4 linked regions of the Homo sapiens genome follow. The protein of the gene in region 4 interacts with the protein of the main gene of each other region in a pairwise test. Each region holds a gene or a part of one and is shown on either strand. Other genes may lie near its edges.

Region 1 (7,576 bases), on a different chromosome or scaffold from region 4:
CCATATGAGACAGGGTTTCACCACATTGGCCAAGGTGGTCTTGAACTCCTGACCTCAGTTGATCCGTCCGCCTCAGCCTCTCAAAGTGCTGGGATTACAGGCATGAGCCGCCACACCTGGGCCTAAGTTGTATTTTATGTGCACTAGGAGAGTTGGCCATTAAGAGAAGCCCCGTGCTAAGTCATGTTGTAGTCTCAGTAGTCACTCCTCAGTTGCTCAGATTTTTACATACTCCCTTTCTTTTGGTCAGTGGGTAGGGTTAGGGGTAGGCTAAGGATGGGCAATTCCAGGCCTTTCCCCTCTGTATCCTGGGAACCTGAGATGCGGAGGTGTGAAAAAATATGCCTGACAATGTCAGAGGAGAGGGATGGCATGGAATGGGAGGCAAGGTAGGGAGAGAGCATTCCTTCCTTGGGGGAAGAGAAAGAGCTGGGTTTATAGTTATAATGCATTTTCTTTGTAGGAAACTTTAGAAAATTTAAGATAGATGAAAGAAAGACCAAGCCAGCTGCAGTGGATCACGCCTGTGATCCCAGCACTTTGGGAGGCCAAAATGGGAAAATCAGTTGAGGCCAGGAGCTTGAAACCAGCCTGGTCAACATAGCAAGACCCCGTCTCTACAAAATAAAAATTAAAAAATTAGCTGGGCATGGTGGTGTGTGCCTGTAGTTCCAGCTACTAGAGAGGCTGAGGCAGGAGAATTGCTTAAGCCCAGGAGTTCGAGGCTGCAGTGAGCTATGATCACACTACTGCACACCATCTTGGGCGACAGAGTGAGACTCTGTCTCAAAAAAAAAAAAAAAAAAAAAAAAAAAAAAAAAGACCAAAATCCCTTGTAATTTCACTACCACAGATAACCACATGGAACCTTTCAGTGTAGTTTTATTTCTTTTCATAAATACACATGTACATTTTAACAAAAATACGGATACACTGTATACAAGGTTTGTAACCTCCCTTTTCCACTTACCAACTTGTCCTGAAGGGAGAGTTTGTTTTCTTTTCTTTCTTTCTTTTTTTAAATGGGATATCGCTCTGTTGCCTGGGCTGGTCTCGAACTCCTGGGCTCAAGCGATCCTCCCCTCTCAGCCTCCCAAGTAGCTGGGACTGCAGGCATGCACCACTGCACCCAGCATGAAGGGACAGTTTGAATTTGGACAGGGAGCCGATGGTGAGAGCCCAGGATGGCAGAGGGAGGCCTTACTGCTAACAAAGACTAGTGTAATCCAGTTTGGCCAGAGGTGGGAAGGGCACGTGGGAGGACCAGTGGAGGTCAGATCAGGGAGGGAAATCAAGGCCAAATGGTGCAGTGCCTTAAACGGCAGATCTTGGGGTTTGGACTTGATTTCTCATGATGTCGTCACTAGGAGTTACTGCAGCTTTTGGAGGGAAGCCAGGCTTGAGGAGGGTTGTGCCTGGGGATGAATGTCTGGCAGCAGTGTGTGAGGTCAGCTGGAGAGGGTGAGGCTGGAGGCAGGGAGGCCCGGCTGAGAGCTACTGAGGGCCAGGTTCAGATCTGCTGCCCAAGGGGGATCAGGTGGGATGGGATGAAGGGTCAGAGATGCCTCTGGGAAGAGGTTCTGGAGCCATTGCTGGATCCTTTGGAGCCACAGGCAGCCGTTCTTCCTGGGCAGGAAGGAGCGCTGTCCAGCTTCTGATTTCTAGGCCTGTCATCTGTTCAGTCTTAACCCAATTACAGTAGAAAGAATGAAATTAATTTATTTGCTATTTTGAGCTGGGCATGGTTGTCCATGCCTGTAATCCCAGCACATTGGGAGGCTGAAGCAGGTGGATCACCTGAGGTCAGGAGTTCAAGACCAGCCTGGCCAACATGGCGAAACTGCATCTCTACTAAAAATACAAAAAATTAGCCAGGCGTGGTGTTGTGTGCCTGTAATCCCAGCTACTCAGGAGGCTGAGGCAGGAGAATCACTTGAACCTGGGAGGCAGAGGCTGCAGTGAGCCAAGATTGTGCCACTGCATTCCAGCCTGGGCAACAGAGTGAGACTCTGCCTCAACGAAAAAATAAAATAATTTGCTATTTTGCATTCATTTCTTTGTCCAGCAAGTACTTCTTAAGATCTGTGATGTGCCAGGGGCTGTGTTGATGGGAGCAGAGCGGGCATCCATATTTTCATCCCTTTCCTCTCCCCAGGTACGGAGATACAAGGGCCTCATGGACTGTGCCAAGCAGGTGCTGCAAAAGGAAGGCGCCCTGGGCTTCTTCAAGGGCCTGTCCCCCAGCTTGCTGAAGGCTGCCCTCTCCACAGGCTTCATGTTCTTCTCGTATGAATTCTTCTGTAATGTCTTCCACTGCATGAACAGGACAGCCAGCCAGCGCTGAGTGCAGGAAGGACCCCAGGTCTTCCCTGGAGGCAGCCTCCTGAAGGAAGGAAGATTCAGTCTCCACTGAGAGGTGCCGTCTGGCCCTTCCCTGCAGGCCAGCTGCCCCAAGCGGGGTAGCAGCCTTGAACCCACCCAGCTGGGACACCACCAGAAGGTCCAGGGCTCTCCCCATGAGAGAATCAGAGGGAATGCAGGACGTGGTCTATGGTGAGCCAACGACACAGTGAGAAGGAGCAGGAAGTTGCTGTTTCTCCTCTGACCAGCCCACACTCCAAAGGAAACAGACGCCATCCTACACCTATCAGCCCTGCCTGCCAGGAGAACAGAACACACTCCTGGTCTGGATGGGGCTGCTGCTTGAGTGCAGAGGGCTGCGGTAGGCCCTTTGCAGGAGTCAGGTCCCTACACTTGGCCTGTTTTTCCAACCTATTTAATAGACATTAAAGCTAAACACACATTCCTTATCTTACTCCATCTCCCCTGGCACATCTGCCTACTCACAAAGTATGAGGGAAAGGACTCCTGCCTTCCTCAAATCCCATGTTCTCCATAGCGGCAGCCCTTGGCAGCTCTGCTTCTAGTGCTGGGGGAGACTCCAGGCTGAGCCAGTCACTTTCTGGGCCCCGTGCCCAGACCTTCGTGTCTGCAGACACACCACCACCCAGGCTGTCCTCTCCCAGGACCGGGCTGGTCATGGCCGTGGGGCTCCATGGAAAGCAGATCCCAGCGCCCGTGCAGGAAGTGGATGGGCCATGCTGTGGGCAGGCGTGGGTGAAGGTGCAGCCTCTCCCCAGTCTACCTCACTGACTCCTCTTTCACCCAGAGCTGGGTCAGCCTTGCTGGGTGAGGAGCTATCAGCAGGACAGGTGGCATCAGCGCCCACTGCCTGCTCCTCAGTGCAGAGCATGCTGCGGGTGCATCCTCCCCTGTAGCCCCAGAAGGGCCGTGGCTCTGAAGCAGCCCACTGATGGGGATGGCAGAAGGAAGGGGCGGGCACGTAGCCTGGTGAGGGCACAGCTGGTGCCTGGGGTGTTACCAGAGCAGAGGGACACCCACAGGCGGAGAGGCAGAGGAGAAACCAGTTCCAGGCTGAGGGGAGGTCTCCAGAACATGACCTCCACCCTTCCCTCCATCTGCCCGGCCTGTAGGGTTGCTCCGACCTGGGAAGCCCTCCATTCTGCCTCCCTCTCCAGCCTTGGAAAGAGGCACCCACTGGGAGCCGGCGCTGGCCCTGGCCCTGGCGTGTGGGTCCTGGGCTCCTCCTCGCACCATCCTTCCCTGCCTCTGGTCTGGGATTTTGGGGTCTGTCTGGGCCCTGAATGCTGGGGCTTCCTGGCTCTGGGCTGCTGGTTCCCAAGGTCCAGGCTGCGGCGGGGGCCACGAGGATGCAGCTGCCTGAATGCATTTTTTATGAAATTCCGTTAAAGTTTCTTCTCTTCATCTTTCCTGCCCATTGGTTTCTTTTGCTGCAGCTGAGCGTTCTCTTCCTCCTCCGTTTTCGGTGACCACTTTGGCGGTTCTTTTAAAAGGAGGCGAGAACGCGGGCAGCGCCGGCAGCGCTCCTCCCGGTCGCGCGGCAGGAGCGGCGGCAGTTCTTCCCCCACTTCTAGGTGCCCTCCTGTCACCCAGGGCAGACGCCGGGCGGTGGGGTCCGCGCCACTTCAGGGGCATTCGCAACAACCGACGGCCGCGAGTTGCCAATGGGGCCCCTTTCTCGGGGCTGCCCCTATGACCTGAAACTCGCTTCGCCCATGTCCTCCTTGGAGCGGGAGAGGGTTGTGGCTGGCCCCGGCCCTGCAGCCCCTGCCTTCTCTACCTGGGTTGGGGGAGCGGGGAAAGTGGTGCGACCAGGGCTGATGCTGTTCCTCCTGCCACCAGGTCCCCACCACGCGCTCTGCAGGCTCTTCCCACGCCGCGCAGCCCAGCGGTGTCTCCCGGCCCAGTGCACCTGAGCTCCGGGGAGGGCTGGGTGCGGGGCCACGCGCAAGATCGAGGTGCCGGCGGGTCCGGCGTGGGCCCGGACACGGCCCAGGCGCACCGGGTGAAGGGGTGACGAGCCAAGCGAGTTCCGCTTGCGGCTGGGTGGCAGCGTCGCAGGGTCCCACGCAGGCGGCGCGGCTTCCGGGGCGGCCTGGAGGCCAGGGCAGTGCCCCGGGGGCCCGGCAGGTGGCGCGGGCGAGCCGACCCTTCCCCGGCGCCGCGCGAGGAGATGAGCTCACGGCGGGCCCCGCAGCGCCGGACGCTGGTTGCGCGCTCCCAGGCGCCGAGCGGCCCCGGGCACGCGCGCGCGCCACCGGCCCGGCAGGTGGGTCCCGGCTCCCACGCCGCCTCTCCCGCCCGCGGGACCCTGGGCCGTGGGCTCCGCAGCCCGCCCTGTGCCTCCGGGAGGGGCGTTCCGGGCGCGGGGGGAACGGCCGAGGGCTGGAGACCCTAAAGGCGCCTCCTACGGCCAGAGGGGAGCCTCCGGCGGGAGCCACCTCTCCGGGGCGCATCATCCTGCCCCCCAGTAAGAGGAAGGCTCCAGAATGGAGCTCAGGAATTAGGAGTCTCGAGTGCGTAGGGCCGGGTTACTGCCACTCGGGAGCCGATCCGACCAGCCTGTCCCAGGGAGAAGCTGGCACGGGTCTGGGGAGTTCAGGCTGCTCCCGGCAGGGGCGGCGGACAGGGCGCCTGCGTCCCCACCCACGCAGGCCGGCCCCATCCGGGGGATGCAGCGGCGGGTGTTGAGACCGAAGGACTCGGCGAAAGCCAGAAAGAGAGGGTTGGGGAGAGGGGCTCGGAGACCTGCTGGGGACAGAGTCGCACCGCTTGGAGTTCCCAGCCTGGCCCTCACCCGGCATCTTCCTGGGCCAGCAACGTCAGGCCGGTTTATTTAAGCAACTGTAACGTCCGCCCGCACACACCCTGCCCCAGTCTACTCCTGCCTCCTGCTGGGACTGGAGGGTGGGCGCTTTCCTGCTTCAGCTTCTCGCTCTTGTGTAATCCCACAAGCGAGGGATTTCTAAACTGAGCAGCAGGTGCCTGGCTGATGCCCAGTCCCCACCAGAAGCCAAGCCTGGTGGGCCTTCAGCCAACCACCGCACGCCACGGACCGCCCAGGAGTCCCTGTCCCGAGCGCGCCGTCAGCCCCGTCCAGGGCCTGCAGGACGGAACCCGCCCTGCGCTCCACACCTGAGGCCGCTCCCTTCGCCTCTTCTCCTCAGGTGCTGTCCTTATTCCCAGCCCAGTCAAGAGCTACCGGGGCTGGCTAGTCATGGGGGAGCCCAGTAGAGAGGAGTATAAAATCCAGTCCTTTGATGCAGAGACCCAGCAGCTGCTGAAGACAGCACTCAAAGGTGAGCACGGGACCCCTCCTGAGCTGGGGTCAGGAGCTACAGAGAAGGGCCCCTGTGGGCAGCACCAGAGGCTGAGCCTGGTGAATGCCTCCACCCCTCCCCTCATTCTCTGACGATAGGAGTCGGCAACGTAATTCTTGAACTGGAAGACAAGCTACATTGAGGCCATTATTTTGGAGTATGAATCACAGTCACCTCTCAGACTGTAAAGACTGTTTTAAAAGTTTAACCATAGGGCTAGGCGCAGTGGCTCATGTCTGTAGTTCCAGCACTTTGGAAAGCCAAGGTGGGCAGATTGCTTGAGTCCAGGAGTTCAAGACCAGTCCCGGAAACATGGTGTAAACCCCATCTCTACAAAAAAAAAAAAAAAAAGAAAGAAAAGAAAAATTAGCCGGGCATAGTGGCAGGCACCTGTGGTCCCAGCTACTTAAGATGCTGAGGTGGGAGGATTGATTGAGCCTGGGAGGGTGAGGGTGCCATGAGCCATGATCCTGCCACTGCACTCCAGCCTGGCTACAGAGCGAGACCCTGTCTCAAAAAAAAAAAAAAAAAAAAAAAAAAAAAAGTTTAACCATAAAAAAAAGAACACGGCTCCTGCCCTTGAAGCGCTTACATTTGAATTGCTGGTTTCTGTGCTGCCATAGCCCCGTCTCTTGAATGCACAGTTGCCTGCTTTGAGACAGAAGATGGAGAATATTCCGTTTGCCAGAGGAGCTATAGTAATTGCTCTCGCCTGATGCCTTCCCGCTGTAACACGCAGTACAGAGGTTTGTCTTCAACTAATAATTAGCAACACCCATCATGTGTCAAGCCGAGCCTGTTGGGAGGCCCTATGTGGCCCTCTCTTGTTGGGGGTTTGCATGTGTGTAGTATAAGAACACTTTTTCTTGTGAAATTGCTGTTGGAGGCATGTCCTGGTCAGTATTCCTTCCTCAACCTAGTGCCAGGAAAAGATGTGTTTCCTGAGAAACTACATTCTTACTTTGATTGGTCCCTACTAGCCACATAACCCTCCCCATTTTCTCTGACTGGGCAACCAGAAGACAAGACAGCTAAAGCTGTTTGTATGGTTACTGTCCTCTGTACGGTTTCTTTTCCCTTTTTTTTTTTTGAGACAGTTTCGCTCTTCTTGCCCAAGCTGGAGTGCAATGGCACGATCTTGGCTCACTGCAACCTCCGCCTCCCAGGTTCAAGCAATTTTCCTGCCTCAGCCTCCCAAGTAGCTGGGGTTACAGGGGCCCGCCACCGTGCCCAGCTTATTTTTTGTATTTTTGTAGAGACGGGGTTTCATCATGTTGGCCAGGCTGGTCTTGACCTCCTGATCCTGACCTCAGGTGATCCACCCGCCTCAGCCTCTCAAAGTGCTGGGATTACAGGCATGAGCCACCACACCAGGCCCTCTGTATGATTTCTTTTATTTTTTTCTTTTTTTTTTTTTTTTTGAGACGGAGTCTTGCTTTGTCGCCCAGGCTGGAGTGCAATAGCATGATCTCGGCTCACTGCAACCTCCGCCTCCCAGGTCCAAGCGATTCTCCTGCCCTAGCCTCCCAAGTAGCTTGGATGACATGAGATGACGCACGAGCCACCACACCTGGCTAATTTTTGTATTTTTGGTAGAGATGGGGTTTCACCATGTTAGCCAGGCTGGTCTCAAACTCCTGACCCCAGGTGATCCAACCACCTCGGTCTCCCAAAGCGTTGGGATTACAGGCATGAGCCACTGCGCCCGGCCATGATTTCTTATAAGTACCATGCGCTAACCAATTGCACCACTGGAGCCACTGTCCTCTGTATGATTTCTGATCTCTTTCACTTCAAGCATATGAGTGCTCTACTGTAAATATCTCAAATTCTTAGAAGCGGGTGGACACAAATGTGATAAAGCAGCAGCTCTA
Region 2 (7,020 bases), on a different chromosome or scaffold from region 4:
AGGGCTGTGAGTGGGAAGGGAGGCTGTGGCTTGGGAAAGGGCAGTGAGTCCAGGCGGAGGCTGCTCTGGCCTGAGAAGAGCTGGCTGCCAACCACGGGCTAGAGTCTAACCTCTCTGGGAGAAGGAGCAGTGGTTATTGAGCCCCTACTGTTCAGAATACAGGAAGACCCCAGCATACATTGTGTCGTTTCCTCTTCACACAGTAGAGGGGGTGGTAGGATCATTTTACATGCCTGAAAACTGAAACTTAGCAGTTTAGGTCATTTACAAAGAGCTGAGTTAGGCCGAATATGGTGGCCCACGCCTGTAATCCCAGCACTTTCGGAGGCCAAGGCAGGTGGATCACCTGAGGTCAGGAGTTTGAGACCAGCCTGTCCAACATGGCAAAACGCCACCTCTATTAAAAATACAAAAATTAGCCAGGCGTGGTGGTGCATGCCTGTAATCCAGCTACACAGGAGGCTGAGGCAGGAGAATCGCTTGAAGCCGGGAGGCGGAGGTTGCAGTGAGCCGAGATCACGGCACTGCACTCTAGCCTGGGTAACGAGAACGAAACTCCGCCTCAAAAAATGCCAAGTTAAACCCTGCTCTGCCTGACTTCAAAGCCCTAGTTTGTTTGATCTGTTAAAAATGTACTGACTGACTTGGCATAACAAATGAGACAGGCTTTCCAAGTTATGGCCTCAGCTGTTGGGAAGATGCTGGGTTTTGCAAACTCACATGAACATCAGACATTTCCTGTAGCAGCAATGAACGACAGCACCTCTTATCCTAGCATTCAGTGACGAGGGCTTAAAGTCCGCTGGGTGGGAGCCCATCACAGAAATCTGCAAGCACTTCAGATCAGGACTTTTAAATGTTTCTAGATGCTGTGGCGATTAATGAATTACAACGTCAGGTAAAGAAATTACACTTAAAGGCTGGACACGGTGGCTCATACTTATAATCCCAGTACTTTGGGAGGCCGAAGTGGGCGGATCACTTGAGCCCAGTTTAAGACCAGCAGGGCAACATGATGAAACCCCATCTCTACTAAAAATACAAAAAAAGTAGCCAGGTGTGGTTGTGTGTACCTGTAGTCCCAGCTACCCAGGAGGCTGAGGTGGGAGGATCACTTGAGCCCTGCAGTGAGCTGTGATCACGCCACTGCACTTCAGCCTGGGTGACAGAGCAAGAACTTATCTCAAAATAAATAAATTAATTAAATAAATAAATTACAGTTGGTTATCATATTACAAAAAAATACAACTATTCAGTTACTGCGGGCTTCCTATGAAATTCTTTCTCCAGGTTGTGCTGAGGATCTGTGCCTTCATATTTCAAAAAAGTATTTCTTAAAAAAGGCTATACAGTTTCTATAACCTTTATTTTCCTATAACCATACCTCTGTCAAAGTCTGATGCTTCTTAGCTAAAAATCACAGCAGAAAAAAAGTCCACTGCTAACAATATTGGACTCAGCCATGGTTTGAGGTTGAGGGTGTGGATTCTGGGTTCCTACCAGCCTTTGGCTTTTACTAATGGGGCAAGTTTCTTCACCTCTGTGCCTCAGTTTCTTACCTGTAAAATGAAGATGATAATACTTTGTTCAGGTCATTGAGCAGACTGAGTGATTCCATGTAGTATTTACAACAGTGATTCACCTGTGTTTACAGTATGAATGCTTTTATTAGTGAAATGGGTCCTCAACTCAATCTGGGAGCCACGAGCTACGGTGCAGGGCTCTCGGGCATCCCCACCGTGGTGCACTGCAGGGAGGGAGGGAGGGTGGGTGGGCTGCCTGGCACACTCTCACCCAGCCCCTCTGCCTGTGTGTTCTCTCTTCAGGCTGCTGCCCCATTGGAAGATTACTCCCCAGGCTTCCCTTGCCCCAAGCAGTGAGCTGACTGGAATGGTACCCCGGGAGGCCCCTGAGTCTGCTCAGTGCCTGTGCCCTTCCCTCACCATCCCAAATGCCAAGGATGTGCTTCGGAAGAGGCACAAGAGAAGGAGCCGACAGCACCAGCGGTTCATGGCCCGGAAGGCCTTGCTGCAGGAGCAGGGGCTGCTGAGCATGCCTCCAGAACCAGGGTCCTCCCCACTGCCCACCCCTTTCGGGGCAGCGACAGCAACTGAAGCTGCCAGCAGTGGGAAGCAGTGTCTGAGGGCTGGATCTGGCAGTGCCCCATGCAGCAGAAGGCCTGCTCCCGGGAAAGCCTCAGGGCCCTTGCCCAGCAAGTGTGTGGCTATCGACTGTGAGATGGTGGGCACGGGACCCCGAGGGCGGGTAAGCGAGCTGGCCCGCTGTTCCATTGTGAGCTACCATGGCAATGTCCTCTATGACAAGTACATCAGGCCTGAGATGCCCATCGCTGACTACCGTACCCGCTGGAGTGGCATCACTCGGCAGCACATGCGCAAGGCTGTCCCCTTCCAGGTGGCCCAGAAAGAGGTAAGGGCAGGGATGGGGACTTGTTTGGGAGGTGTGGTGGGCTGGAAAGAGCCACCCTGGGTTTGAATCACCACTTTGCTTCACTGGGGGCAAGAAACCTTGGGAAAGTCACCTAACTGCTCCAAACAGTAGGTTCCTTCTCCATAGAACAGGGGAAATAAAAATAAAATCCTGACCTTGCCTCCAGATAAGGATTGCTGGCCTGTTGCACAGGACAATGTAGAAAGGCTACACCAACTGTAAGGTGATAAATAGCTTACATTTTAGAGTTTGCTTTCTGTTATAAAAGTTGTACGCATTGATATAAAATTTGTAAAGCCCACAGTGGCATCACGTTCAGGTATGGATGTTTTGGCATATTTCCTTATGTTAGTTTCTTAGTGCTTAGAAAAAATTAATTAGTGGTTGGGACCACACTGATGCACCAGGAATTCCCAAACATGCTTGACCTTAGAAACACCTAAGTCCTTTTTAACAATCTAGGATCCTTGTCCCCAGTTCCCTCCATAGAGTTCCTGATCCATTAGGCTTGGGGAGGGCTCTGACCCATGTTCCAAAAAATCATCACACTGTGTAGACTTGCACCATAAAGCCACAGGGCTTAAGGGGAAATGGAGAAAGGGAACAGTATTAAAAAGGCCATCAGTGACACCCCAAAAATAAGATAGAAACCTAATAAAAAGGTAGTCCAGTTTTACGCATCTTGTTTCTTTTTTTTTTTTTTTTTATTCCACACATCTTAAATGGTTAAGAAATGCACAATACACCAATAAGTATGGCACTTTACCTTGAAAAAGACCTGAACTTGCTTGTGGAAAGAGGAGTCAGAAAGGTTGCAGCTTGAGTTTCTGTGAAGTGGTTGAAGGAGAGTTCTTTGAAGTCAGACAGGAAGTGTGACACCAGCTGTGGATGGGTGTGGCTCATCACACAGGTGAACTAGGGTTGCTGGGAGATGTTTGGGCTGTGTGCATATTGTGTATGCCCTCTTGGCTTAGTTCAGTTGGATGCAGTTTTCTGCGTTCATTCAGTGTTTCTCAAGGATGAAATTATGCACAAGCAAAGGTGAAATTTGCATTGTTCTCAAAATGTGTCATACATCAATTGCATTGAGACAAATCTGCATTTTCTAAACAAGCCTTGTAACAGAACCACTTTTTAACACTTCTGGGTTATTCTTGGGATTAGGCAAGGTTGGGAAATACTGGTGTACACTATCTCGTGTCCTACTTTTTCACATAACATTGTGGCCCGAGCATTCCTTTGAAATGATCGGAGGTTATTTTATGTATCAAGCAGGCCAATCAGTAAGAGTAGCAACAAGAGGGGAGGTGTGTGGTGAACCCTCCAGCTCCTTGGTCCCTTCCATTGACCTGGTTGGTGGTGGTCCCAAGAGCAGGACCACTTTTTGTCTGCCCAGACTCCGAGCCACTGTGGGTTGTGCTTCATCTCTTTCCACTTCATGGCTGACTTGGGGGGAGGGGCAGTGTGGTGAGTGACCAGCATGGTGGCATGTCCCTACTATAAAGTCTCAATGCATCTTATCCATCTGCCATGAAAGCTGGGTTTGGGGATAAACATATGTTGCCAGCAGAGGTAGGCTGTGGAGGCCCGCAGCTGGTGATAAGGAGAGCCCAAGCCCAGCTAAGAGGGCTAGAGGGGGTTGCTGGCCCATGGCCCTGGGCGTGGCCTCCCTGGTGTATGAGGAGGGCCACCCAGCAGGGAAGGGAGGTACACATTGTGCAGGCAGCCAGAGCTGAGCAAGAGAGCAGGTTAAGAGGATGAGGAGGAGTTGGTACACAGCAGGGCAAGGGGGCAGAGTCCTGAAGACAGGGATTATGGCCCTTAATGCTCATAAGAGCTGCTGCTATGGTGTGTCTACCAGTGACAGGCACGGTTCTGTTGACTTCACCCAGCTGGTCTTTATTGATCACCTCCTGTGATAAGTAAATAATCAATAAATGTAATGCTTTCTACTACAGGAAAAAGATAGGCATTAAAAAAAAAGAATAAATGTGACGCTTTCCTTGGAGCATCACTAAGAAGTCCAACATGGTCCCTGCACTCACAGACCTTACAGTGCGGTGGGGGAGAGTTGGGTGGAGTGGGAGGCCTGGTGACGTCTTCCAGGCTGAGAGGAGAGCCAACACCAGCAATAGAGTTGCTTGTATCTGGTAACAGGAAGACTTCCATCCATGACCTCGTTTAGTCCTTAGAGCCACCCCACGGAATGCTGCTGGCAGTGTTTCCCTTTGACAGGTGCAGAAGACATAGGTATGCCCCTGGGTATAGACAGTAGAAGGGTCTGGGTTCAGACTTGGGGCAGCATGGTTGACTGTGGAGCTCGTGATCTCCCCACTCGGTGCTGCCTCCCCCCACAGGGATCCATGCATCTATTGGCCAGGGGTTCTCAGGGCGTGTCTCCTGCCAACCTGATGGGGTGTGGGGTGACCTCCCTGACTCCTCTTTCTGCTCACAGATCCTTAAGCTCCTGAAGGGCAAGGTGGTGGTGGGGCACGCGCTGCACAACGACTTCCAGGCGCTCAAGTATGTCCACCCTCGGAGCCAGACCCGGGATACGACCTATGTCCCAAACTTCCTCAGCGAGCCCGGCCTCCACACCCGGGCCCGGGTCTCTCTAAAGGACCTGGCCCTGCAGCTGCTGCACAAGAAGATCCAGGTGCGTGGTGGGAGAGTGGCTGGAAGGGAGGGAGGCCCGCCTGGCCTCCATGCCACCTGAGCCACAGACAAGGCTTTGGGCTGTGTCTCCAGCCTCCTTGTCATTCTCTTCCCTAGTCCAGGTCCAGGGACCTTGCTTAAATGGGTCTCCCTCCTGTACACGCAGCTCCAGGTGTTTCTCTCCATGATCCTTCTTCCCCAGTGTGTACTGCGATTCTCCCAGAACACATTCTCCTAGGCCGATCTCTTCCAGATCTGTCCCCTCCCTAACTCTTGGTTCTTGCATCCCTGAAGCATGGTCTCCCATCCCCTACTAGCAGACATAGAGCCTTAGATCAGGAGGAGCCAGTACCTCTTGCTCCTGTTGGGCTTCACATTTATTATTCATCTGATCTGCAAGCCTTTGAAGCAAGAGATTTTTAGCATGCCTTATATTTGAGGAAAACAGGCTTGGAGAAGCTGCATGGCTTATGGTGTACAGTTGAGGTTCCATCCCTTTTCTGTGAACCTCCATTCTGAGCATACGTATTCTTGGGCCTGCACAAAGAGCCCTGGGAAACTGGCCTTGCTTCTTGGGGTAACAGGCCTCTCACTAGGCCTGCAGGCAGTGATGTGTTGGCTCTCGTCAGTAGGTGGGCCAGCACGGGCACTCATCAGTAGAAGATGCCACGACAGCCATGGAGCTCTACCGGCTGGTGGAGGTGCAGTGGGAACAGCAGGAGGCCCGCAGCCTCTGGACCTGCCCCGAGGACAGAGAACCTGACAGCAGCACAGACATGGAACAGTACATGGAGGACCAGTACTGGCCCGATGACCTGGCCCACGGCAGCAGAGGAGGAGCCAGGGAGGCACAGGACAGAAGGAATTGAGAAGGGGGCGGGGCTCCCTGGCTGGGCTTCCGGTGTGGCCGGTAGGAAGTGGGGGCCAGGAGAGCAGCGGGCACTCCTTCCTGGGCAGGGTGGGGCAGGATGCAGTGAGCCAGCCCCAGGGCCAGAGGAGTAGGGGTCATCTGTTACCTTGACACCCTCTGCACACAGCATAGCCCTCTCTCTCTCCAGGGCTGTTGGTTCTTTCTTCTGACTCCTGTGGTTTTGCTAATGGCACTTTACAGACTCCATGGAGATGTCAGGTGGACCATCTTCTAGGGCCCAGCAGGAGTAGGGAATGTGCCAACAGACTGCCCAGGTTGCCGTGGCCTTCCCCACCCCCCAGATCTCCTGAGTCATCATGCTGTGCTAATGAAAGGGATCATATCATCCTCTCTGGGGATGGTGGGTGGGGGTGTCAATATCCTGGAGCTCCCTTACCCCAACTCAATGACTTGGGGGTAAAGTTCTCTTCCTTTTGTTGCCTACCTCTTCCTCCACTCATTTGGGTTCAGAATAAACATGTCCTGAAGTTAAAGAGGAGTTAAGTCCTAAAGGAGGCATTTCTTCCCCACCTCCCTGACCTGGAACTCTGGCTACAGCCATTGTAGGAACTCCGTGCCTGGCCTGTCAGCTCCCTGCTAGGCTACAGTGGAATAGCAGAGCCCACAGGCTTCTCGTGGGGAGTTGGCTCCTTAACATTTCTTGGCAACAGAAAGCCCCAGGCACAGCTCAGGGAGGAGGGAAGGCAGGTAAGCTTTGGACGAGAACTGGCATATTTATTTTGACCCAAATCAGGGATTTCCCCAGTCCACCCAGTACTGGGCTCTTAAGCAAAAGTCTGAGAAACAAGACAGTGGTTTGAATTCTGGGGCCTTTGTGTAGGATTGTGCCTGACCTTTATTTATTTATTAACAGCAGGGCCACTCGTCTAGGGCAGTGGAGTCTGCGTGTCTCCTGGGGCTGGGGCAGGGCATTGGCAGTTACGCAGTGGCCCTGAACCTGGTCTGGTGCCCCCGAACCTGGTCTGATGCCCCCTCAGCTCTTT
Region 3 (7,715 bases), on a different chromosome or scaffold from region 4:
ATCTGACTCCAAGGCCACCTCCTTCTTGGCCCTCCCTGATCCACAGGATGAGAACGATCATTCCTTCCTCTGACTCATCAACCTTTTGTGCTCCTATGGCCAGCATCCACCTTACACAGCAGCAGAGACTCAGGTTCTCATGCCCTCAGCTGGGGATCCCTGAGCATCCGGGTCTTCTGAAATGGACTGCTGCAAATGCTAAGTTCTGCAGCAACTGGGGAGAAGAGTGTTGGAGGGAGTTGCACAGAAAGGACCATCCACTGAATGTTCCAGAAGGCAGCAGAGTACAGTAGTTAAGAGCACAAGATCTTCAACCTGATTGCCCGGGTTCAAATACAGCTTCACCTCTTACTAGCTAAGTGACTTGGGGCAGATTACTTAACTTCTCTGGACCTCAGCTGCCTCACTTGAAAAAGGGAGGTAGAGTGCCTACTTCAGGGTGTTGTTCTGAGGACAGAGTGGCCACATATAAGTGCCCTGAGGACAGGCTGGTGCACGGTCAGTGCTAAGCAAGTGTGTGCTGCCATTATTATCAGCGAAGCCCCAAGAAGGGAATTCCCAGTCCTGGGGGAGGGCTGACAGGGGCTGGCATAGGCACAGCCCCCAGACTATAGCCACTTTCCGGGTCCGTTTCCCATGTGCTTTTGGAAGATACGCAGGGCAGACAATCAGCCCCATTCTGCAGATGAGGAACTGAGCTTCCTTCAGATCAAGTGCCAGTGAGGGAATGGTAAAGACGCCAGAGCTCCTCAGCCCTGGACCATGGCTCCTTTCTCTTCACCAGACCGTCACTGTGCACCTGTTGAGCAGGCTCCCACGGCAGCCACCCCTTCCCAGCCCCCCATGCCGGAGGGCCTGTCCGCAGCACCCTCCCTTCCCCCACGTACACACATCCTTCCAGTGGGGCCGGGCACAGTAGACAGTGGTGTGCAGGCTTGGAATGCACTTGCACACACACCCCTAGAAGGGCCCAGTCCCCAAAGGTGAGGAAAACCTGTTCTGAGGAATCTGCCTAGTGAGCGAATTCTGTTCTGAGGCCCTTCCACCGTCGCAGGAGTGGGGCCCAGTGTGCGTCAGAGATACCCACAAGGGGGGCAGAGAGAGGGAGAGGGTGAAGCAGGAGGAGGCTGAAAACTTCACGTTTCTTTTTTCCATTTTAGTGACAAGAGTCACACCCAGCCTTTACATAAACATGGCCAAGGAGCCTCTCTGTCTAAGCTTACTTCCCTTGTGGCCGCCCAGCCTCTCCTCCGGGTGACCCTGACACGCTGGGCAGGCTCATGAGGGGCAAACATACAGACCCTGCAAAGATTAGCTGGGCCATCTGACAACACCCATGCCTCCCGCCGGCCTCCATGCGCTACCCTGCATTTATCTCCCGCCTTCCTCATACCAAATCCCCTCCGCAGCCCCACCGCCACTTAAGCACACAGACGGCAGGCACGCACACACAGCCTGCTTGCGGCTGGCCTCTTGGGTCTGAGGCCCACACTGCCCTTGTCACGCCACCTCCCTCCCCACATGTGTTTTCTGACCAGTTTGCCTCCCAGCTCAGCAGCCCAGACAGGCTCCTACAAACAACGTCACAAAAGAATCCTGTGGAGAATGTTGCAAACACACAACCTTCCCCTCGCTTGGCTGCCCATGATCCCATAAACACAACTGGCGCATTCCACCTCGAGCCCCTCACACCAGTGCCAACTGACCCACAGGCCCCTGAGACATACCCCGGGGTTCCTCGCTCCTCTCATGATCTTTGGGATCTGAGTTCTAGACGCGCAGCCCCCATGCAACGCGCTCATCACAGACACGCAAACCCATCCATCGCCCTCTTCACCACTGGACCACACCTCAGCAGGGCCACAGAAATGGGACCCAGACGTGACGCCTTCTGACTCAAAGGCCCACAACCGCCCCCTCCAAAAGGGCACATACACTGCATCCTGGCACCCTCCGCAACACATACAGCATGCCAGCTCTGCAGAAAACAGTTCATAAACAGGTCATAGGTGCAGCACAAGACACACATGCGAGAAAACACATGCTGTAGAAAACATACAGCCCCACATCGAACAAACTCTGCACCCAGCATGCTGTGCCCTGCTCAGAATACCCATCTGTCACCCAAAGCCACAGGGCTCGTCTTGTAACTCTGCCCCACAACACTGGACACCCTTCCTGGCTTTCTATCTCCATGGCCCAGGGAGGGCCCTACCCAGACCCCTGGCTGCCAGCAAACGGTGGTGCCCAGGAGAGGTTTACCTTGCCCCACCACACAGCACAAGACACACGATCTCCAAGACTCACAGCCACAACCCTGCCCCGACGGCGCGGCGGTTCCGGGGCCCCAGCTCGCCCTGCGCACCCCGCACACCCCAACTCTGGGGCGCTCGGCGGCCCACCCCTCCCCCTCTCTGCCTGGCTCCTACGCCATCACCCTCCCAGCAGCTTGCAGCGCTTGCCCGGGCTCACACCCGCCCCACCCCACCCCCAATCTGCCCCACGGGGGGAGGGGGCCATTAGGCTGCAGAATTAACCCTTCAAAGAGGGAGTGAGCACCTCCCCTTCCACGGCCCCAGGCGATCGCGTCCCACGGCCGCCCCTCGCTCGGACGCCATACCAGGGCCCCCTTAGTCGCCCCCCAGCGTCGTGCGCGCCCGGGGGCGGGGCCAGGCTCAGCCCCCGACCCCTGCGCCCCCAGGTCAACCCCAAAGGAGAGCGGTCTGGGCGCGGGGCGCGGTCGGGGCTCCCGCAGCGCCGGGCAGCGGAGAGGGGGCCTGGCAGTTGGCTCCGGTCCGCCCTGGCCCTGCCCAGTTCGCCCCAGGGCCCACCTGACTGCGATGGCGCCGCGTCCGCCAGGCCCGGCTCATCACCGTGGCCGCCCCCGGCCGCTCCGGTTTTGCCCGCCTCCAGCTCCGGCTCCGGCTCCAGCTCCGGCCCTGGCCCCCCCAGCGCCTGGCCCCGGCCCGGCCCCGCTGCCGCCGCCGCCGCCGCCGCTGACATCATCGGCTCCCCCCGCCCCGGTCCTACCCCCACCCCCACCCCCGGAAACAGTCCCCCCCCAGCGCCGCCGCCGCCGCCGCCGAGAGGAGGCCGGCGCAGCGCAGCCGACACCGACACAAAGCTCCGAGCGCCCGACGGCCTTCCCCAGGACTGACCCCCGCGGCATGACACTGCGCCGCGCTGGGCCACCGGGCGGGTGGACACCGAGCGGGGCGCGGGCCGGGCTGCAGCATCCCGGCAGGGGCGCAAGACCACCGACCCCCAGGGAAAGGGCTCCCTCCGCCCTTCCTCCTGCACGCCCTTCACTCAGCGGTGCACACTGCCTGAAAGCATAACACACAGGCTCTCAGGGTGCAGACATGACATGGCAGACTCATAATCAGGCCCGGTGGGACTCACAGACCCAGGGTCGGCACACTCAAAGAGGGCCAGCCCTGGACACACACACACACCCTCTCCAGGAATGCGCAGGAAAGCTCAGCAGGCCGCGGAAAAAGAAGGCCCTGGCCCTGCATACGGGGCACACACGAACGACCACCAGCGCAAATGAACACATGAAGCTGGCTGGGTACTTTGTCCCCACCAGCAGATAGATCCACATCTGTATACTTGAACATAAATGCAGAGGCCTTGGTGTCGGCCTCTGGGGACAGCATCAACAAAACACCAGGTGGAAGCACACACAGAAAAAACACATTCCTGAAACTCCACAGGGACAATCCCAAGAACTCCTCCCTGGTGCTGGAAAATTAAAAACTAAGGAGATGGAGGAGCCAGGGTTCACAGCTCCTTGCCTTAAAACCTCTCTGAGGCTGGGCGCGGTGGCTCACGCCTGTAATCCCAGCACTTTGGGAGGCCGAGGTGGGCGGATCACGAGGTCAGGAGATCGAGACCATCCTGGCTAACACGGTGAAACCCTGTCTCTACTAAAAATACAAAAAAATTAGCCGGGCGTGGTGGCGGGCGCCTGTGGTCCCAGCTACTCGGGAGGCTGAGGCAGGAGAATGGCGTGAACCTGGGAGGCGGAGCTTGCAGTGAGCCGAGATCTCGCCACTGCACTCCAGCCTGGGCGACAGAGACAGACTCCGTCTCAAAAAAAAAACAACAACAAAAAAACCTCTCTGAAACCATGCAAGATATAAATAAACAAATTAATGTAAAGCCACAGAGCTAGCCATAAAAAGAATAAAAGAATCAGACAAACTTTGGAGTCATGGAGACATAAATAGAAAAGAAGCAGAGTTGGGCTGGGCACGGTGGCTCATGCCTGTAATTCCACCACTTTGGGAGGCGGGGGGTGGTGGGGTGGATCACTTGAGGTAAGGAGTTCAAGACCAGCATGGCCAACATGGAGAAACCCCATCTCTACGAAAAATAAAAAATTAGCGGGGTGTGGTGGCACATGCCTGTAATCCCAGGTACTTGGGAGGATGAGGTAGGAGAATTGCTTGAACCCAGGAGGTGGAGGTTGCGGTGAGCCGAGATTGCACGCACCACTGCACTCCAGCCTGGGCAAGAAGAGCAAAACTCCGTCCCAAAAAAAAAAAAAAAAATTAGCCAGGTGTAGTGGCACATTCTTGTAATCCCAGCTACTTGGGAGGCTGAGGCAGGAGAATCGCTTGAATCTGGGAGGTGGAGGTTGCAGTGAGATGAGATCACACCATTGCACTCCAGCCTGGATAACAAGAGTGGAAACTTCGTCGCAAACAAAAAAAGAAAGAAAGAAAGAAAAGAAGCAGAGTTGGACTCAGCGGGAAAATAGGCGTGCTACCACCTCAGGAGAGTTCCAGGGAAGAACCCCACCCCCACTCCAACCATGTCACAATGGCTGGAGCTCTGAGGGGCCCAGGCTCCCTGAGCCAGGAGGAGAGGAGAAAGTCCAAGGAAAGATGGTGAGTGTGGGGGCCAGGGGCCTAGTACTCCCTCCCTATAGCTCCTGGTTGCTCCATTTCCCCTCCTTTCCTAAAACTTAGCTGTCTCAGAGATACCCACAAATAGAATTCATAATGGTGTACCCAGATGTCTCTGGAACCTGTGGCATCATACAGATGCATAGCATCTGAGGCTTCCTCCCCTTCCTCAATCCGAGAGAGCATCCTGGGTCCTTTTTCTCCTCCCAGGAACAACTTACCCAGGGAAACGATGCTCCAGGACTGCTCACTCCTTGCTTCCTGCTCCAGGCCCACATTATAACATCTCACTCATCTTTTAGGCCCTTTCTAGCTCCGAAGAGTTCCTCAGCAAGATAGCCCAACACTGTACAGTCCCACAGGGTCCCAGACCCCATCCTGGCATCTGCCCTGCCCCAGGTCGCCTGGGCTGCGGCTGCTGTCTACCCTGAGCTCCTTTCTCCCTAACAGGCTGGCAGTCACCCCTACTTGAACCCGCCTGACTCCACACACCCATCGCCGCCCTCCGCTCCACCCAGCCTCCGCTGGCACCAGTGCTGCCAGCCCTCTGATGCCACCAATGGCCTGCTGGTGGCCCTGCTGGGTGGGGGCCTGCCTGCTGGCTTCGTGGGCCCCCTTTCTCATATGGCTTACCAGGCTTCCAACCTGCCCTCGCTGGAGCTGCTCATCTGTCGATGCCTCTTCCACCTCCCTATTGCCCTGCTACTTAAACTGCGTGGCGACCCCCTTCTGGGACCTCCTGACATCCGAGGCCGGGCCTACTTCTATGCCCTGCTCAACGTCCTCAGCATTGGATGTGCCTACAGTGCGGTTCAGGTGGTGCCCGCTGGCAACGCTGCCACTGTTCGCAAAGGTTCTTCCACCGTCTGCTCCGCCGTCCTCACCCTCTGCCTTGAGAGCCAGGGTCTCAGTGGCTACGACTGGTGTGGACTGTTGGGCAGCATCCTAGGACTAATCATCATTGTGGGACCTGGACTCTGGACACTACAGGAGGGGATCACGGGTGTCTACACCGCCCTGGGCTATGGGCAGGCTTTCGTGGGAGGACTGGCGCTGTCCCTGGGGCTTCTGGTCTATCGTTCTCTGCACTTTCCCTCCTGCCTCCCAACAGTGGCCTTCCTATCTGGCTTGGTGGGGCTGCTGGGCTCTGTGCCAGGCCTCTTTGTGCTGCAGCCCCCCGTGTTGCCCAGTGATCTCCCGAGTTGGAGTTGTGTGGGGGCAGTGGGGATCCTCGCCTTGGTCTCCTTCACATGTGTGAGCTATGCGGTCACCAAGGCCCACCCTGCCCTGGTGTGCGCTGTCCTGCATTCCGAGGTGGTGGTGGCCCTTATACTGCAGTATTATATGCTCCATGAGACTGTGGCACCTTCTGACATCGTGGGGGCAGGGGTTGTGCTGGGCAGCATTGCCATCATCACAGCCTGGAACCTCAGCTGTGAGAGGGAAGGGAAGGTGGAGGAGTGAGATAGAACTTGGGAGCCCGGGGGTTGGGAGGGACAGGGATAAATAGAGGCAAAGACTGAAGACAAACATGGGAGGAGAAGTGACTGGAAAAGAACTGGTGTGGGAGAGGGATACCTCTCAGAGTCAAGGGTGACTTGGGGACTTGGTGGAGAGGGACTACCTGGAAGACCTGGGGCCAGCCTGGGACCAAGGGATGTGGAGACCAGGCTGGGTCCTGGAATCAGGGCATAACTAAGGGGTAAAGTCTGAGGAGCAGATCCAAACGGCTGAGGCAGGGAGGCCGTGGGCCACGGGGAGGACTTCACTCAGCAGCAAAGAGAAGAGCATTGGGGCTGGAGTGTTCCGGCAAAGACAGAGCCAGCAGCTGCGGTGGGGGAGGGGAGCGTGCCTCCCCACCCCTCCCCTCACGGCAAAGGTTTCCTTTCCTCGTGCTTGTGCCCCCCCCTTGGGGTGGTGACGTGACATTGACATCAAACAAGGATTACTCTGAATGTGGCTTGCAGTGGTGTCGTCTCTGCTTTGGAGGGAGAGTGGAAAGTCCTACGACCGTTCTCATTGGAGAACCCCTTGGGATCCCCGCCCCCCATTTTATTCCTGAAATATTCTACAAAGTGGAGGATTTCCTAATGTTCAGATGCCTTGACCCCAAATCCCCCAGGACTTTCGTGGCCCGCCCCATGGCTAATCTGCTTTTCTCGGATTGTCGCGGTCCCGTGATCTCTCCCGGACAGTGGCCACCCTCCTTCCAGAGCAGGCCTCCCAGCTGAAGTCTCTTCGAGAGGCTCAGGCCATGGATCTAGGATCATGGCTCGGTACAGCGCGGCATTACAGGCCAGGAGATGCCCACCCGTCTCCGGGGGCCGTTTGACAAACATCGGCTACTTCCGGACAAGCCACTGGTCCTGCCATCTTGGTTTGTTCATGCATATTCAGCAAGAGAACTGCATATTCATGAGCAACCGCCCTTCCCCGGGAGGACCCGCCCCGCCCCGCCGCCATTACCGATTCGCAGAGCAGACCATTTTCCAGCTGGGGGGGGCTACGAATGAGAGGCTTTTGCTGAAGATGAAACCGTTGTCCAAACTAGAATGAAAGCGGCCCAATTTTACCCTCGAGTCTTCAAACCTTAAGCCTCAGTGCAAAAGGGAGCAGCGAGGAGAGGCGGTGGGATTAAAGAAAAAAATTCTTCTCTCCCTGTCACTTCAAAAGGTCGCCCAACCAGCGAGCGGGGGGTTTACCCACGACTCTGGCTCGCACCCCTTGCGGGCCTGCGCAGGCGGCCCCGTAGCGCAAGGGAGGGCGGGAAAGGAAGGGGCGGGGACGCGAGGGCGAATCTAT
Region 4 (6,995 bases):
GTTCATCAAAAGACCTGTACAGAAATGTTCATAGCAACACTGTTTATAATAGCTCCAAACTGGAAATTGCCCAAGTGCCTATTAAGAATAGAATGGACAAATAAATTTGATATATTTATACACTATAGAAGCCTATTTAAAAGCAAGAATAAATGGACTACAGTACCATATAACAGTATAGAACTCCAAAAGCAAAAGATTGAGTGAAAGGAGCCACGTACGAAAGAGTACATGGTGTATAATTTCATTTACATAAAGTTCAAAACTAGGCAAAATTATTCTATGGTGTTAAAAATTAGGATAATGATTATCCTTGAAGTCATCAGGAGGGCTTCAGGGATGCTGGTAATGTTCCCTTTCTCTATCTGAATGCCCATCCCATGAGTATACTCAGTTTGTCAAATTAATTGGACTGTAAATATATAATTTGCGATTTTTCCAAATCATTTCTGAATTTGTCTGAAATTGTTACATGTAAATATAAAATTTTTAAAACTTAATAAATAATACTTTTTTCTTCAAGTGTGAAAAACACTGGCAGAGAGCAAAAGGCCCTGATACACTCACTCCCATCACCATCAAGTGGTCATCTAGCCTTTGCCTGAGTAACTCCAGGGTCAACAATCTCTTTACTGCCCATACTGCCCAGGCAGCTAACTTGTTAGAAAGCTTTTTTTTAATTTTTTTTTGAGACGGAGTCTCGCTCTGTCGCCCAGGCTGGAGTGCAGTGGCGCGATCTCGGCTCACTGCAAGCTCCGCTTCCCGGGTTCACGCCATTCTCCTACCTCAGCCTCCCAAGTAGCTGGTACTACAGGCGCCCGCCACCACGCCCGGCTAATTTTTTTTGTGTTTTTAGTAGAGACGGGGCTTCACTGTGTTAGCCAGGATGGTCTCAATCTCCTGACCTCGTAATCCGCCCCCCTCAGCCTCCCAAAGTACTGCAATTACAGGCGTGAGCCACCTCGCCTGGTCTTTTTTTTTTTTTTTTTTTTTTTTTTTTTTGAGGCGGAGTTTCGCTTTTGTTGCCCAGGCTGGAGTGCAATGGCTTGATCTCGGCTCACCACAAACTTCTCCTCCCGGGTTCAAGCGATTCTCCTGCCTCAGCCTCCGGAGTAGCTGGGATTACAGGCACGTGCGACCACGCCCGGCTAATTTTGTATTTTAGTAGAGATGGGGTTTCTCCATGTTGGTCAGGCTGGTCTCGAACTCCCGACCTCAGGTGATCCGCCTGCCTCAGCCTCCCAAAGTGCTGGGATTACAGGCATGAGCCACTGCACCTGGCCAGAAAGCTTTTTCTTTACACTGAGCCATAACTCGCCTCCCAACAACTCGCTTGCATCGGTTGTTCTGTCCTCCTAAGAGATTCTAATGTGATTCAATCCCTCTACCACCAATAGCTCTTCGGAAATTTGAAGGAAGCTACCACATCCTCCCCACTCCCAGTCGTCATTTCTCCGGACTCAGGAGTCCCAGGTCCTTCCTTTGGCCATCCCTCAAGGCATGGCTTTGAGTTCCCTCCTGTCTCTTGATTGTACTTATTTTATCTAATGATGCCCAGAACTAAGCACAGCCCTCTCGGAGAGGCCCAAGAGGAGCAGAAAGGAGCCAAAAGTAAAATCATCACTTTTGATCTAGACAGAATCTAGACAGCCTACTTCTTCTGTCAACAAACCCTAAGCTTCAATTTGCTCCTTCTTTAATATTCACATTATACCATTCACTCCTGTTGAGCTTAGCAATCAACTAAAAGCACCCAAGTCTTTTGCATAAGCCCCAAATTTACCTTCTGTGTTTGTACCGTCTTCACTCTCTCAGGAGTCAGAGCGCTCATTTGGCCCCACCCCAATTCTCCAAAGCTAAATCCCACAGATGGAAGCGTATCTGTTATAGAGACACCGCTGGAATAGTCTCCCTACCCTCCCACCCACTAAAAAACAGAAACGAAGTCTTTGTCTCAATACATGGTCTCTTATCCTTACCCTTTCCTTGAATGGGGCTTCATTTTAAAGTGTGTCTGGGGGAAGGACTGGAAGAAAACGCAGTTTCACAGGCCATCTCCAAAATCTGACCTAAAAGCCAACTGTTGCCTGGCCTCAATAAAGCCTGAGCAGTGTGGTGCCCTGATCTCTTTCCTTCTCCATTCCTCCCCCAAGTGGGCTCCAACTGGAGGTTGTGGAGATGAGTGCTGCTGGGCTCTGCTCACTCAGTCCCTTTGCCTTTGTGTGAGTAGTGACAGATGAGGCTGAGAAGGAAAACGTGGCAGGGTGAGAATAAACCTGATATTGTTCAAAGCATCTGACATCAAACATATCTCTCAAGAAGACCTACTGGAATCCCTCTAGCCACACGAACAAGGAAACGACAGAGAACCATTTCTACAGAAAGTTCCAGGCGGCCTCCCTGGGTATTTTTAACATCAGGACTCGGTGGAGGGGAGAGTCATTAAGCAAGGGAAACCCCGTAAAACAGAACATGTGAAAATGACCAAGAGAGGTGGGCTGGGAACCAGGCAGGGCGAGGCTACAGAAAAGGGAAGCTGTCACGGGACCCTGGTGGTGAGGGGCGACCTCTCTCTCCCTAAGGGCGCTGGGGGAGGGGAGGGAGGAGGACCACCAAGTCTGGAGCGCGGCGAGAAGGAAACAGCCCACCTACCTCGTCCAGGTCTGCTCCATTTTCCAGGCTCTTTCCTTAGTCTCAGGACGCTCCTCACCCGGGAGGGGAAGCAGCCTGGGAAAATGAGAAGCCTTGCCCACGAATCTCCAGCGCAAAAGGCAGCAGCTTTTTCCTCCCCAGCTCCTTTCTGCGTCGGCGGCGAAGAGAGAGCTCTGCTCCCTGCTTTTTTAGAAAATGGATTTGACGTGGCCGAACCTGCGGCTAGCCGTGCGACCCGCACAAGGGAGGGACTGTTCTCAGTAGGAGGCTGGACTCAGAGCGGCGCGGCGCCCGGGGCTGTTTCGTGAGCTGGAGCCAGCGGCTGCCCGGGCCGCGGTGCGCGCACTCTCCAGGCTGAGACACGACTGGCTGGCACGAGTTGCTCGGCACCAGCTGAGCTGTCAACCGCGAGCGGAGGCGGGGCTCCCGACAACCAGTGTGCTGGGGCAGAATCGGCCCAGGTTACACGCCCCCTGAACCACCCTCGCGTCTCCCCGACCCCTCTCTCGCTGGCTCAGATGAATGATGACGGCAGAGGGCAGAGAGCTTAGAGGACGCGGTACCAAGCCCCGTCCCTCGCCCATCCCAACGAAGGTCTTAGAATACAATCAACCAACTACAGGAAGAATTTGTAGAGGAGGTTTTCTTGTGTGTCTGCATCGCCCCACCCACAGGTAACCCCAGAGCCAGAGATGGAGTCTAGGAAGGTTTAGGAGCAATCCCGGCTGAATGCAGATGTATACCCTACGTGGTCATGGAACACGATGTTGTCTTCCTAGAGATGTGACATGCCAGTTTCACCATTAATCCAGGGACAGGACCCTTCATCAGGAAGGGAAGCATCCCAACAAAACCTTACAGCCCTATTAGCTGCCTGTATCCCAGACATCTCCTGTTTTAGGGTATTCTACCTCCTCGTTTTTCAGTTTCGCCAGCAACTGGGCTCTACCAATAGCTTCAAGGAGGGAGAAGCTTCCTGACTCCCAGAACACTAGAAAAGCCTCAAGACAGTAGCCATCAGGACCTCGACACTCCCTTGTGACTGTTTTAAGATCATGGAAAAGGCCTCTTTGGAGATGGCATTGCCTCAGGCCCTGTACCATGTACTTATGTATCAAGATTTAAACAAGGCAGACATACTATAATTAGAGTGCTTGCCACCCTGAAGCTCCTTTTTAGCTTTCAAATAAGACCGTTTTATTAAATGACATAATCACTGTTATTATTAGCACTATCACTGACCTTTTTTTTTATCTGAAAAAGGCTTTATAGTGCCCACATGTGGCAATGTTAATTTCGTTGTACTTGTTTCAGAGATGATAAATTTGAGACCCCAAAAGGCCCAAAGTCTCTGCTAAGGTTCTGATACAGGCTGTGTTCTCCATTGGGTGGCCCCAGAGATATGTTCCCTGAATTTCTAAAGCTACGACCCACAAGACTTCTCCAGGATGAATTTATTCTTTCAGGCCTCCTAGGCATTTAACTCAGGAAGAACCTGGCATGCCTGGGTATTGGTGAGACTGTGGGGAGTCTGTGTTCTTGGGGGAACCTGTCATCTGTCTGTTATCTCTTGGATTGGTTCCCCTACATACTAGTACAAAGTAGGGGTGGGGAGGGGAGGATAACAAAACATTTGAAGGTTTAGCAGAACTGTCTAAAAAGCCCCTAGTCTAGACTCCTCCAACACTTGATTTATTGGTAGGACCACACTGCTCCAGAGCTCAAAATGTTACCAGGAAAAATTTCAAGGTCCAGTTTGATCTTAGACAAGGCTCACAGGCCACCTGTCTTGAAAAGAATATCCTGTTGCCTCTGATGGGGGGGAAGAAAAGGCAGGGAGAGTCAGATTCCCATCCTTCATACCAAAGTTGGGGCTATATTTAGCTTTGTCTCAAATCAAATTATGGGCTACCGAGTTGTGGAGAGGAACTCTGTCTACAGGCAGCTCACTGGATTCAAGAAATGATAGCACTAACTAGGTGAGCTGTGGGGTCTCAGAAGTGACGCTAGAAAATACGTTCATGTATTTTTAAAATAACTTTTTTCAAAAGTTTATAGCACATTCATTGTAAAAACATTTGAAAAATACAGAAAGTTATATAGATTACTCAGAATACCCAGGGATCTTCAATATTAAAAATGTGTTGCATTTTTTTCCCACTCTTTAAAAAATGCATCTTTTAATCCAAACACCAACTCTTTCTTACACACATGGGTATATTCTTGAGAAGAGAAATTTCCTTGTTGTTTTAAAAATTATACTTATTGTCAAAAGAACAATTTTTTTGCGTTAGATTTCAGAAGAAAAATATTCACCCATATAACCACTGCTACAGCACAAATGTTTAAATTTCTCCAAATTCCCTTTAGTCATTATCTATATATATTAAATATCTATTTACATAATTACGATTACAGCTTAGGTATATGTTTATATTCTCCTTCTTTCACTTAGTAAATATTTGTCCATGTTTTTAGGGAAAGTTCATAGTTATTATTCTAATGAGTGTACAATATTTTATAATATTAGTAGGACCATAGATTACTTAAAATATTCTACTATTGCATAGTTATGCTGTTTCTGATATTAGACTGTTATAAATAATGCCTTAATGAAGAGCTTTCTGCCTTTATCATTCTCCTTTTTTGAATTATGCTATGGTTGAATGTATGTATGCCTTCAAAATTCATACATTGGTACTTAACACCGAGTGTTATAGTACTACAGGGTGGGGCCTTTTAGGAATATGTCTTAGGAAGTGATAAGGCATGAACACTCCACTCTCATGAATGGGATTAGTGCTCTTAAAAAAGAGGTTGAAAGGATTGCTCTGGTCCCTTTTGTCCTCTGTCCCTCCAGCCATGTGAGGACACAGCATCTGTGGCAACAAGGAGCCATCTTGGGAGCAGAGAGCAAGCTCTTCCAGACACTGAATCTGCCAGCACCTTGATCTTGGTCCAGCCTTCAGAACTGTGAGAAATAAATTTCTATTATTTACAAATTACCCAGTCTAAGCTATTTTGCTATAGCAGCAGGAATGGACTAAAGGCGATTTTCCTGGGATAAAAGGACTTTCTAATTTTATTATCTTAGCCTCAAAAGCACTAGAAATTCTCCTTTTATTTTTTTTCTTATTTAATTTGTAAATAATTGGATAGTTATATTTTAGTTCTATATCTAGCTAGTATACTAATAATGTAACACCATCTCATTTTGCTTTACGTTTCTTAGAATACTAGCTAGTAAGGTCTTATTTCATATCCTTTCTTGGAAACCATATGTGTAGTAGCCAGTCTCATGAAATCCTTGTGTTGAGTCACTGTATTAGTCATCTTTTTGCTGAAACAATGCTGCTCAACAAAGAACTCCCCAATCTCAGTATTATACAACACACATCCATTTCTCCCTCAAGGATCTATAGTTTAGGTATGGATTGGTTTAAGTCTGTCATTTTCATGGCAGAGTGCAGGAGTGCAAGAGAGTTGGCAGAGACTCATGATGACTGGTCTCTGCTCAGAACTGGCACAGTCTCGCTTCTGCCATTTTCCGTTCACCAAAGTAAGTAACATGGCCAAGTCCAAAGTCATTGGTGCAGAAAAGTACAGTCTGCCCACAGAGTGCAGGAGGGGAGAGTAATATTTGTGGAACAATAATGCAATCCACCAGTCACTGTATGTGCTGCTTTCTTGCTTTTTGTTAAGCTTTTCTCCTTGTAGATACATGGTAACTTTATTCTTCCTCATCCCATTTTAACTTAGCTATGACTTTTGAACAGTGAAATGTAACTTGTTTCGTTGGCTGAAACGTGAGAGGAAGTCTCATGTGGTCACTTCTGGGAAGAACGCAGACATTTTTAAGAGCTAGTACATAATTGGCCCTTTTCAGTTTCCGCTGTTTTATTGATCCTTGAAGATCAATAAGATGAAGCTTTCATCAACCTAAGTCCCTGAGTTACTGTGATGGTCAGAGCCTTCCTGCTAACCCTAATTGAACATGTAGAATGAGCAAGAAATTCATTTTTGTTGTATTAAGTTACTGAGATTTGGAGATTATTTATTACTGGAGCATAATCTAGCCTATCCTAACACATTGCTTTTTATTTCCATTTTGCAACCAAGTATCGTTATGTGTGTGTCTGCTCTCAGTTTTCTGGCTTAGAACTCAAATAACCGGCCGGGCGCGGTGGCTCACGCCTGTAATCCCAGCACTTTGGGAGGCCGAGGCGGGCGGATCACGAGGTCAGCAGATCGAGACCATCCTGGCTAACACGGTGAAACCCCGTCTCTACTAAAAATACAAAAAATTAGCCGGGCGAGGTGGCGGGCGCCTATAGTCCCAACTA

What was found.
Region 1: the proteins of PDE4DIP (region 4) and MIF4GD interact in binary tests that used the Homo sapiens proteins (3 or more experiments, as listed by UniProt).
Region 2: the proteins of PDE4DIP (region 4) and AEN interact in binary tests that used the Homo sapiens proteins (3 or more experiments, as listed by UniProt).
Region 3: the proteins of PDE4DIP (region 4) and ZBTB4 interact in binary tests that used the Homo sapiens proteins (3 or more experiments, as listed by UniProt).

Annotation. Positions count from the first base shown.
Region 1 is NC_000017.11:75,268,219-75,275,794, reverse strand, and holds the start of MIF4GD (MIF4G domain-containing protein), read left to right. Parts: upstream 1-4,563; 5' UTR 4,564-4,651; exon of another isoform or gene 4,652-4,898; intron 4,899-5,072; exon of another isoform or gene 5,073-5,228; intron 5,229-5,549; 5' UTR 5,550-5,599; coding exon 5,600-5,681; intron 5,682-6,325; coding exon of another isoform or gene 6,326-6,448; intron 6,449-7,576. Other genes in the region: SLC25A19 (mitochondrial thiamine pyrophosphate carrier), read left to right, coding at 2,156-2,344. UniProt on the Homo sapiens protein: Functions in replication-dependent translation of histone mRNAs which differ from other eukaryotic mRNAs in that they do not end with a poly-A tail but a stem-loop. May participate in circularizing those mRNAs specifically enhancing their translation.
Region 2 is NC_000015.10:88,624,320-88,631,339, forward strand, and holds part of AEN (apoptosis-enhancing nuclease), read left to right. Parts: intron 1-1,826; 5' UTR 1,827-1,890; coding exon 1,891-2,430; intron 2,431-4,906; coding exon 4,907-5,107; intron 5,108-5,735; coding exon of another isoform or gene 5,736-5,738; coding exon 5,739-5,975; 3' UTR 5,976-7,020. UniProt on the Homo sapiens protein: Exonuclease with activity against single- and double-stranded DNA and RNA. Mediates p53-induced apoptosis.
Region 3 is NC_000017.11:7,476,625-7,484,339, forward strand, and holds the start of ZBTB4 (zinc finger and BTB domain-containing protein 4), read right to left. Parts: upstream 3,008-7,715; 5' UTR 2,832-3,007; intron 2,809-2,831; exon of another isoform or gene 2,263-2,808; intron 1-2,262. Other genes in the region: SLC35G6 (solute carrier family 35 member G6), read left to right, coding at 4,893-4,901, 5,364-6,377. UniProt on the Homo sapiens protein: Transcriptional repressor with bimodal DNA-binding specificity. Represses transcription in a methyl-CpG-dependent manner.
Region 4 is NC_000001.11:148,840,452-148,847,446, reverse strand, and holds the start of PDE4DIP (myomegalin), read right to left. Parts: upstream 3,020-6,995; 5' UTR 2,673-3,019; coding exon 2,653-2,672; intron 1-2,652. UniProt on the Homo sapiens protein: Functions as an anchor sequestering components of the cAMP-dependent pathway to Golgi and/or centrosomes.